2 linked regions of the Homo sapiens genome follow. The protein of the gene in region 2 purifies or fractionates together with the protein of the main gene of each other region. This does not show direct contact. Each region holds a gene or a part of one and is shown on either strand. Other genes may lie near its edges.

Region 1 (3,500 bases), on a different chromosome or scaffold from region 2:
TCTGTGGCCCTTTTGCTGCTCATGATAGTGAGTGGTATGTCACTTTGGAGAAGATTCAAGACTGGGATCCCAAGCCTGGCGCAGTGGCTGATACTTGTAATCCCAGCACTTTGGGAGGCCAAGGTGGGTGGATTACTTGGACCTCAGGAGTTTGAGACCAGCCTGGGCACCATGGTGAAACGCCAACTCTATGAAAAATACAAAAATTAGCTGGCACTGTGGCGTGCAACTGTAGTCCCAGGTACTCAGGAGACTGAGGTGGTACGATCGCTTGAGCATGGGAGACTCAGAGGTTGCAGTGAGCCGAGATTGCACCACTGCACTCCAGCCTGGGTGAGAATGAGACCCTGTCTCAAAAAAAAAAAAAACTGGAATTCCAATAGTACCTAAAACAATCATTGCTTTTCAGTATAAACACAGTAACATGTTGAATTGTTTCTTGAACCAGATAGGCATGTAATATGTTCTGAAGAGTTCCCTTTGAAAAGAGGAAGACAGTAGTATTATATGTTGGCTGTTTATAATAATGCAGTGTTTAAGCTTCTACAGAGATGGTTTCTGTTGACTTTTTCCCCCATGCATGAGCCTTATTTTACTGTTTCTTTGTATGTCTCATCATTTTTTTTGGTTAAAAATTAGATTTTTGGCCTGGGCACGGTGGCTCACACCTGTAATCCCAGCACTTTGGAAGGCCGAGGCGGGTGGATCACTAGGTCAGGAGTTCAAGACCAGCCTGGCCAAGACGGTGAAACCCCATCTCTACTAAAAATACAAAAAAAATTAGCCAGGCGTTGTGGCGGGCGCCTGTAATCCCAGCTACTCGGGAGGCTGAGGCAGAGAATTGCTTGAACCCGGGAGGCGGTGGTTGCAGTGAGCTGAGATCATGCCACTGCACTCCAGCCTGGGCAACAGAGCAAGACTCCATCGCCCAGACTGGAGAGTACACTGGTGAGATCTCGGCTCACTGCAACCACCGCCTCCCCCGGGTTCAAGCAATTCTCTGCCTCAGCCTCCCGAGTAGCTGTGATTACAGGCTTCCGCCACCACACCCGGCTAATTTTTTTGTATTTTTAATAGAGAGGGTGTTTCACCGTCTTGGCCAGGCTGGTCTTGACCTCCTGACCTCGTGATCCACCTGCCTCGACCTCCCAAAGTGCTGGGATTATAGGCGTGAGCCATGGCACCCGGCCAAAAATTGGATATTTTTAAATAAGTTTTATTTAGATCCCACCCCCTACCTCCCCACCCCCATTCTGTCTCTCAGACATGATTTGTTTGGGTTTGGTTTGGTTTTTTGAGACAGGGTCTTGCTTTGTCACCCAGGCTGGAGTGCAGTGGCACAATCTCAGCTCACTGCAGCTTCAACTTCCCGGCCTCAAGAGATCCTCCCACCTTAGCCTCCCAAGTAGCTGGGACCACAGATGCTTGCCACCATGCCTGGCTAATTTTTGTATTTCTTTGTAGAGACAGGATTTCACCATGTTGCCCAGGCTACTAGTCTCGAACTCCTGGGCTCAAGAGACGTGGCCACCTCAGCCTCTCAAAGTGCCGGGATTGCAGGCATAAGCCACCATACTTGGCCAGACATGGTTTCTTTTTTTAATCTTTCAAGCTTTTTTTTTTTTTTTTGAAGACAGAGTCTCACTGTTACCAGGATGGAGTGCAGTGGCGTGATCTCGGCTCACTGCAACCTCTGCTTCCCGGGTTCAAGCGATTCCTTTGCCTCAATCTCCCGAGTAGCTGGGACTACAGGCACACGCCACCACGCCCAGCTAATTTTTGTATTTTTAGTAGAGATGGGGTTTTCACCATGTTGGCCAGGATGGTCTCATCTCTTTACCTTGTGATCTGCCCGCCTCTGCCTCCCAAAGTGCTGGGATTACAAGCACGAGTCACTGCGCCCGGCCTCAAGCTTTTATTTAAGTGCAGTGATCCAGGATGGATTTTAGATCTTGTTGAAAGCAGCCACATCCATGGACTGCACATAGTCCTCAAAAGCAGTGATCTGCTTCTCCACTGTTGCAAGTTTATCATCTTCAACTACACGCTGTATTTGAAGTTTCTTAATTTCCTATCCCACTGGAACTAGTTTAGATGAGCCAGACATCGTTTCTTATTGTTGTTACTGGTTTAGTGACTTTCCTGGACTTCTGTAATCCCTTTCCTGTAATTCTGTACAGTCTACATTTTGTGTGTATGGCCACTGAAGTCTGCATAGGTAGTTTACTGAACAAACTGATCATTGGACAGAAATTTTCTTAAAAGTCTTAAACCAGTAAGTCTCCACATTTTTGTTGGGGAGCTCTTTATAGGGTACACCATCAGTGTCCCATCAAGCAGTTTACAACTGCTTTAGCCTTTACTTCCTGTGTTAACAGAACCTCAAGGTCAGATAGAGATGAGAGTTGCTAAGGTCTTTCCTGGACATGTATACAGCTCTGTGCATGTGTATGGCCCTCTAGGTTCTCTGGAATATTGTCAGAGCTTTTTTTTTTTTTTTTTTTTTTTTTTTTTTTTTTTTTTCCTTGAGACGGAGTCTCGCTCTGTCCCCAAGACTGGAATGCAGTGGTGCGATCTTGGCTCACTGCAAGCTCCACCTCCCAGGTTCACGCTATTCTCCTGCCTCAGCCTCCCGAGTAGCTGGGACTACAGGCACTCGCCACCACGCCCAGCTAATATTTTGTATTTTTAGTAGGGACGAGATTTCACTGTGTTAGCCAGGATGGTCTCGATCTCCTGACCTCGTGATCCACTTGTCTCGGCCTCCCAAAGTGCTGGGATTACAGGCGTGAGCCACGGCGCCTGGCCTTTTTTTCTTTCTTTCTTTTTTTTTTTTTTTTTTTTTTTTTTTTTTGGAGACAGAGCTTTGTGTTGGCACGATCCTGGCTCACCGCAACCTCCGCCTGCCAGGTTCAAGTGATTCTCCTGCCTCAGCCTCCTGAGTAGCTGGGATTATAGGCGCTCACCACCACGCCCAACTAATTTTTTTTACTTTTGGTAGAGTCGGAGTTTCACCATGTTGGCCAAGCTGGTCTTGAACTCCTGACCTCAGGTGATCCACCTGCCTTGACCTCCCAAAGTACTGGGATGACAGGCATGAGCCATCACGTCCAGTCTGTCAGAGCTTTTTAAAGCCCCCTATGAACATCTCATTCTCCAGTTTTTCCTTTCAGTTTTTGTTCAGCTTCTTGATAGCCCAAACTTGTAATGCCACCACAGTAGTTGCAATGATAAACAGTTGCCATTGATTGTTTTTTGACAAATGTCTTGTGTTTAAGGCTATTTGAAAAGTGAGCTGTGGGTCAGATCAAATCTCCAAATATTTTATCCTGTCTTAGATTTATGTTTTAAGGAAGTGGTACACGTAAAGCTCTTAAAACAATATCTGCCACATAATAACATGATTATGCATATGTTCTTTTCATTTCTTGGAATGCCATCTGTCTGCTTGTTCATGGCAAAATTTTACTCATCTTTCTGGTCTCAGGTGAGAGCCAACA
Region 2 (3,500 bases):
TCAACACAGATGTGGCCCCTTTTCCTCCCCATCAGAGCTCGGCATATGTGTGCTGGGTACTCTCTCGAGCCCCGTTTCCCTCTGTGGCTCTACCTGCTTCTCCTTTGTTCCTCAGTCTGTACCCTTTCTATCCTTTCTCTCCTTTACCCCACTAGGTTTAGCTTCCTCCCACCTTTAGCTTTCTAACCATCACCCACTCCTTTCTATCACTGCCTCTGCATCAGGATTCTCAAACTCTCAAACTTATTCTCCCTTTGCCATGATTATCCCCTGCATCTTTCCACTCTAACTTCTATTTCTCTCCCTATATCTACTAATATGCCTTCAACTCTTAACAGTCTCTTCTCTATTATCTCCCTCACCATCTCCAGTCTCTCCCCTGGCTCTTCTCCCTGCTCTTTTCTTTCTCCCTATGTTCTACCTCCTTGTAGCACTGACTGTCCCCTGTCCACTGGGACAAGTATGTGGAACCAAAGACTTAGATGTAGCCCTCATCTTCAAACCCTGGATCAGCTTAGGTAGAGGGAGGGTTATGTTTAGAGCTTAGTAGAGAATGCGAAAATAGTAGTAGCTTCTCAATAAATGTTGGTTTGTTTGTTTCCTATTTTCACATTCTCTAGTTAATGCTCAGCACTCATGTGAAGCAAGAATTATTATTATCTGTATCACACTGAGAAGTTTGGTGAGTAAGGTTAGATAGTGGTTAGTAAGGAATCAGGCAGTGATTAAACCCACTTCAATTATAGCCAAAGAACAGAATTTAGATGCCAGGAAGAACTTTCAGGCACTTGCCTGTATAATTTAAGATTGGGAGTTTAGGGAGTTCATTCACCATGTATTTATTGAGTGCTGTCTAGCACTATGGGAGGCACTGAAGCTACAATGGTGAGCAAAACAGACACAGTATGAATAACAACAGTGTCCACTCTCATGGAGATTAGTACCTAATGGCAAGAAAATAGACAATTCTTATGCTGAAATTTGTAAAGTATGCTATTTGGGATGTTGCTTGTCACTCCCCATCTCACTAGTAGCTTCCCTATCCCAGCTACTTCTGATCTCTGAATTCTCACCCCCCAAACCCTACTCCATTGCACCATCACTGAAGCTCCAGCCAGTAAAATAACTGGACTACCAGGGCCCTGGGACCTCAGAGAATAATCAAGAAAAAAAAAAGCTATAGAGACTTTGGGTATCATATCCTGAATATATGAAGTTCATTAAGCACTTTCTCCTCATCTCCCTTAGAAGGTCCTCTTTCTCCCAGGGTGGGGGTGGGGAAGAGCTGACAGGACACCCTAAGTCCATCCTGATTTTGCAGAACTCAAGACATGGGGAGGATACTTAAAGGCCTAGACTTCCTAACCCTGCTTATATGGCTCTGGAAGCTCATTCCTGATTCTTCCTATCTAGAGTCAGGATAGACATATTCTGTCCAATGGAGACATGTTGTAGGACACTCCCAACTGACTTAGGAAAGGCAGTGAAGAGGAGCTGGAATGGAGGCAGAGGCAGATATTTATTGAGAATCATCTATTAGACCCAAGAAGGATCAATTTAAGGTCCAGAGCAAGGGGAAATGGGTCAAAATGTAAAGTTGGGATGTTCAAACTTTGTAAAGACCTACTGGCACTAGACTGAGAAGTCAAAGGAAGCTCAGGGGAGAAAAAAGGCATTGTAGTTAATCTGGTGTATTTAATATTATTTCTGGTGCTTTAGGCAAATAGGAGGCAACACCATGGAGGTAATTATTCCTTTCCTCAAGAGCTGGGGGCAGTCATGGTGATGATGATGGAGCAGCAGCTGAAGAAACTTCTTAAGAGAGAATGGGGAGACAGATGTATAGGAAGTGCTTGGATAGTTCCATTTTGCTGGGTGTTATTCCTAATGGGAGTGAGGCAAGAAGCCTAGATCTGAATTCTGGTTTACATAATGGGATAAATTTAGCTCATGCTCCCTATCTGGACCCTGGGTTATCCCCTCTCTGAGGCCATCTGTGTTATTTTGTGGGGGAGGGATGTGCCAGGCTCTACCTGTCCAGCAGATAAATCAGAGCAGATAGGGGAAAGGTGATGGAAGGGCAGCAGGTGTGATAAGAGGTATGGCTTCTATAAAGAGCTTCAAAGATTCAGAAAATGTTGGAGCCTTATATGCTGGGAAAAGTTGGACAGTAAGGATGGTGGTGGATGAATAATTTTGCAGGTTATCTGGTAGACAGGAACCTATATATTAGGGCAAATGGATTAGGAAATGGACACAGATCAGTAAGGCCTTATAGGGCCATCATCCTAAAGAGGAAGTGCTGTTTTAGGTACCGGAGACATGGTATAAGATAGGCATGGGAGAAGGGTAAAGAAGAACTGGAAAATCAGGCTGAGAAGTCCAAAATTGCCAGTGCCACCCAGGACTACTGATCCCCTACACAAACACCCTTTGCTGATGCTGTGCCCTTCTCTCTTATCAGCGGACCCAGCAGTACAGACAGATGGCAGCCCTCTCTGCTGCCATTTTCACTTCAGCCCCAAGGTGATGTTCACAAAGGTACTGAAGGCCCAGCTGTGGGTGTACCTACGGCCTGTACCCCGCCCAGCCACAGTCTACCTGCAGATCTTGCGACTAAAACCCCTAACTGGGGAAGGGACCGCAGGGGGAGGGGGCGGAGGCCGGCGTCACATCCGTATCCGCTCACTGAAGATTGAGCTGCACTCACGCTCAGGCCATTGGCAGAGCATCGACTTCAAGCAAGTGCTACACAGCTGGTTCCGCCAGCCACAGAGCAACTGGGGCATCGAGATCAACGCCTTTGATCCCAGTGGCACAGACCTGGCTGTCACCTCCCTGGGGCCGGGAGCCGAGGGGCTGGTGAGCAGGGGGCCTGAGGTGGTGGATATGTGTAACCTGGCCCTGAGGAGATAGGGTTACATTGGAAAAGGTAGACAAGGAATGTGAAGGAGGTTGGGGACCAGCATTACTTCTCTGGGGTCAGCAGCTGATTCTAGAGGAGGAGGTGAGGAGTGGGGTGGCAACTATTACTTCTCAAGGATCCAAATCAGACAACAGCTGAAAACTGGATTTGAAGGTAAAGGTGTCAGTTAATGGAAGAGCTGTGAGAACAAAAAAACTGGCTGTTGAGGCGTTGGGCCAAGGGGCTGACAGGGATCAGGTTGCCAGAAGAGTAAGAATTAGAGATGGTGAGTTGAAGGAGAGCTAGCTAGCTGGCAAGAAAAGTGGGCAAAAGATAAATTCTGGGGGTGGGAGCAATGGAAAAGCTGAGAAGTCAGCAGTCTCTATTCTGATGCCCCTGGCAGGTGGGAAAGGAACAGGGAAGAGGAACTGTTCAGGACCATATCACATTTCTTTCCCCTCTCCCTGACCCTCAGCATCCATTCATGGAGCTTCGAGTCCTAGAGAACACAAAACGTTCCCGGCGGAACCTGGGTCTGGACTGCGACGAGCACTCAAGCGAGTCCCGCTGCTGCCGATATCCCCTCACAGTGGAC

The links. Proteins that work in one complex are often made in the same cells at the same time.
Region 1: the proteins of GDF11 (region 2) and ZNF131 purify together in Homo sapiens (affinity purification with mass spectrometry; one large-scale study listed by BioGRID and IntAct). This does not show direct contact.

The regions. Positions count from the first base shown.
Region 1 is NC_000005.10:43,141,414-43,144,913, forward strand, and holds part of ZNF131 (zinc finger protein 131), read left to right. Parts: intron 1-3,500. UniProt on the Homo sapiens protein: Plays a role during development and organogenesis as well as in the function of the adult central nervous system. May be involved in transcriptional regulation as a repressor of ESR1/ER-alpha signaling.
Region 2 is NC_000012.12:55,746,122-55,749,621, forward strand, and holds part of GDF11 (growth/differentiation factor 11 preproprotein), read left to right. Parts: intron 1-2,464; coding exon 2,465-2,862; intron 2,863-3,380; coding exon 3,381-3,500. UniProt on the Homo sapiens protein: Secreted signal that acts globally to regulate anterior/posterior axial patterning during development. May play critical roles in patterning both mesodermal and neural tissues. It is required for proper vertebral patterning and orofacial development.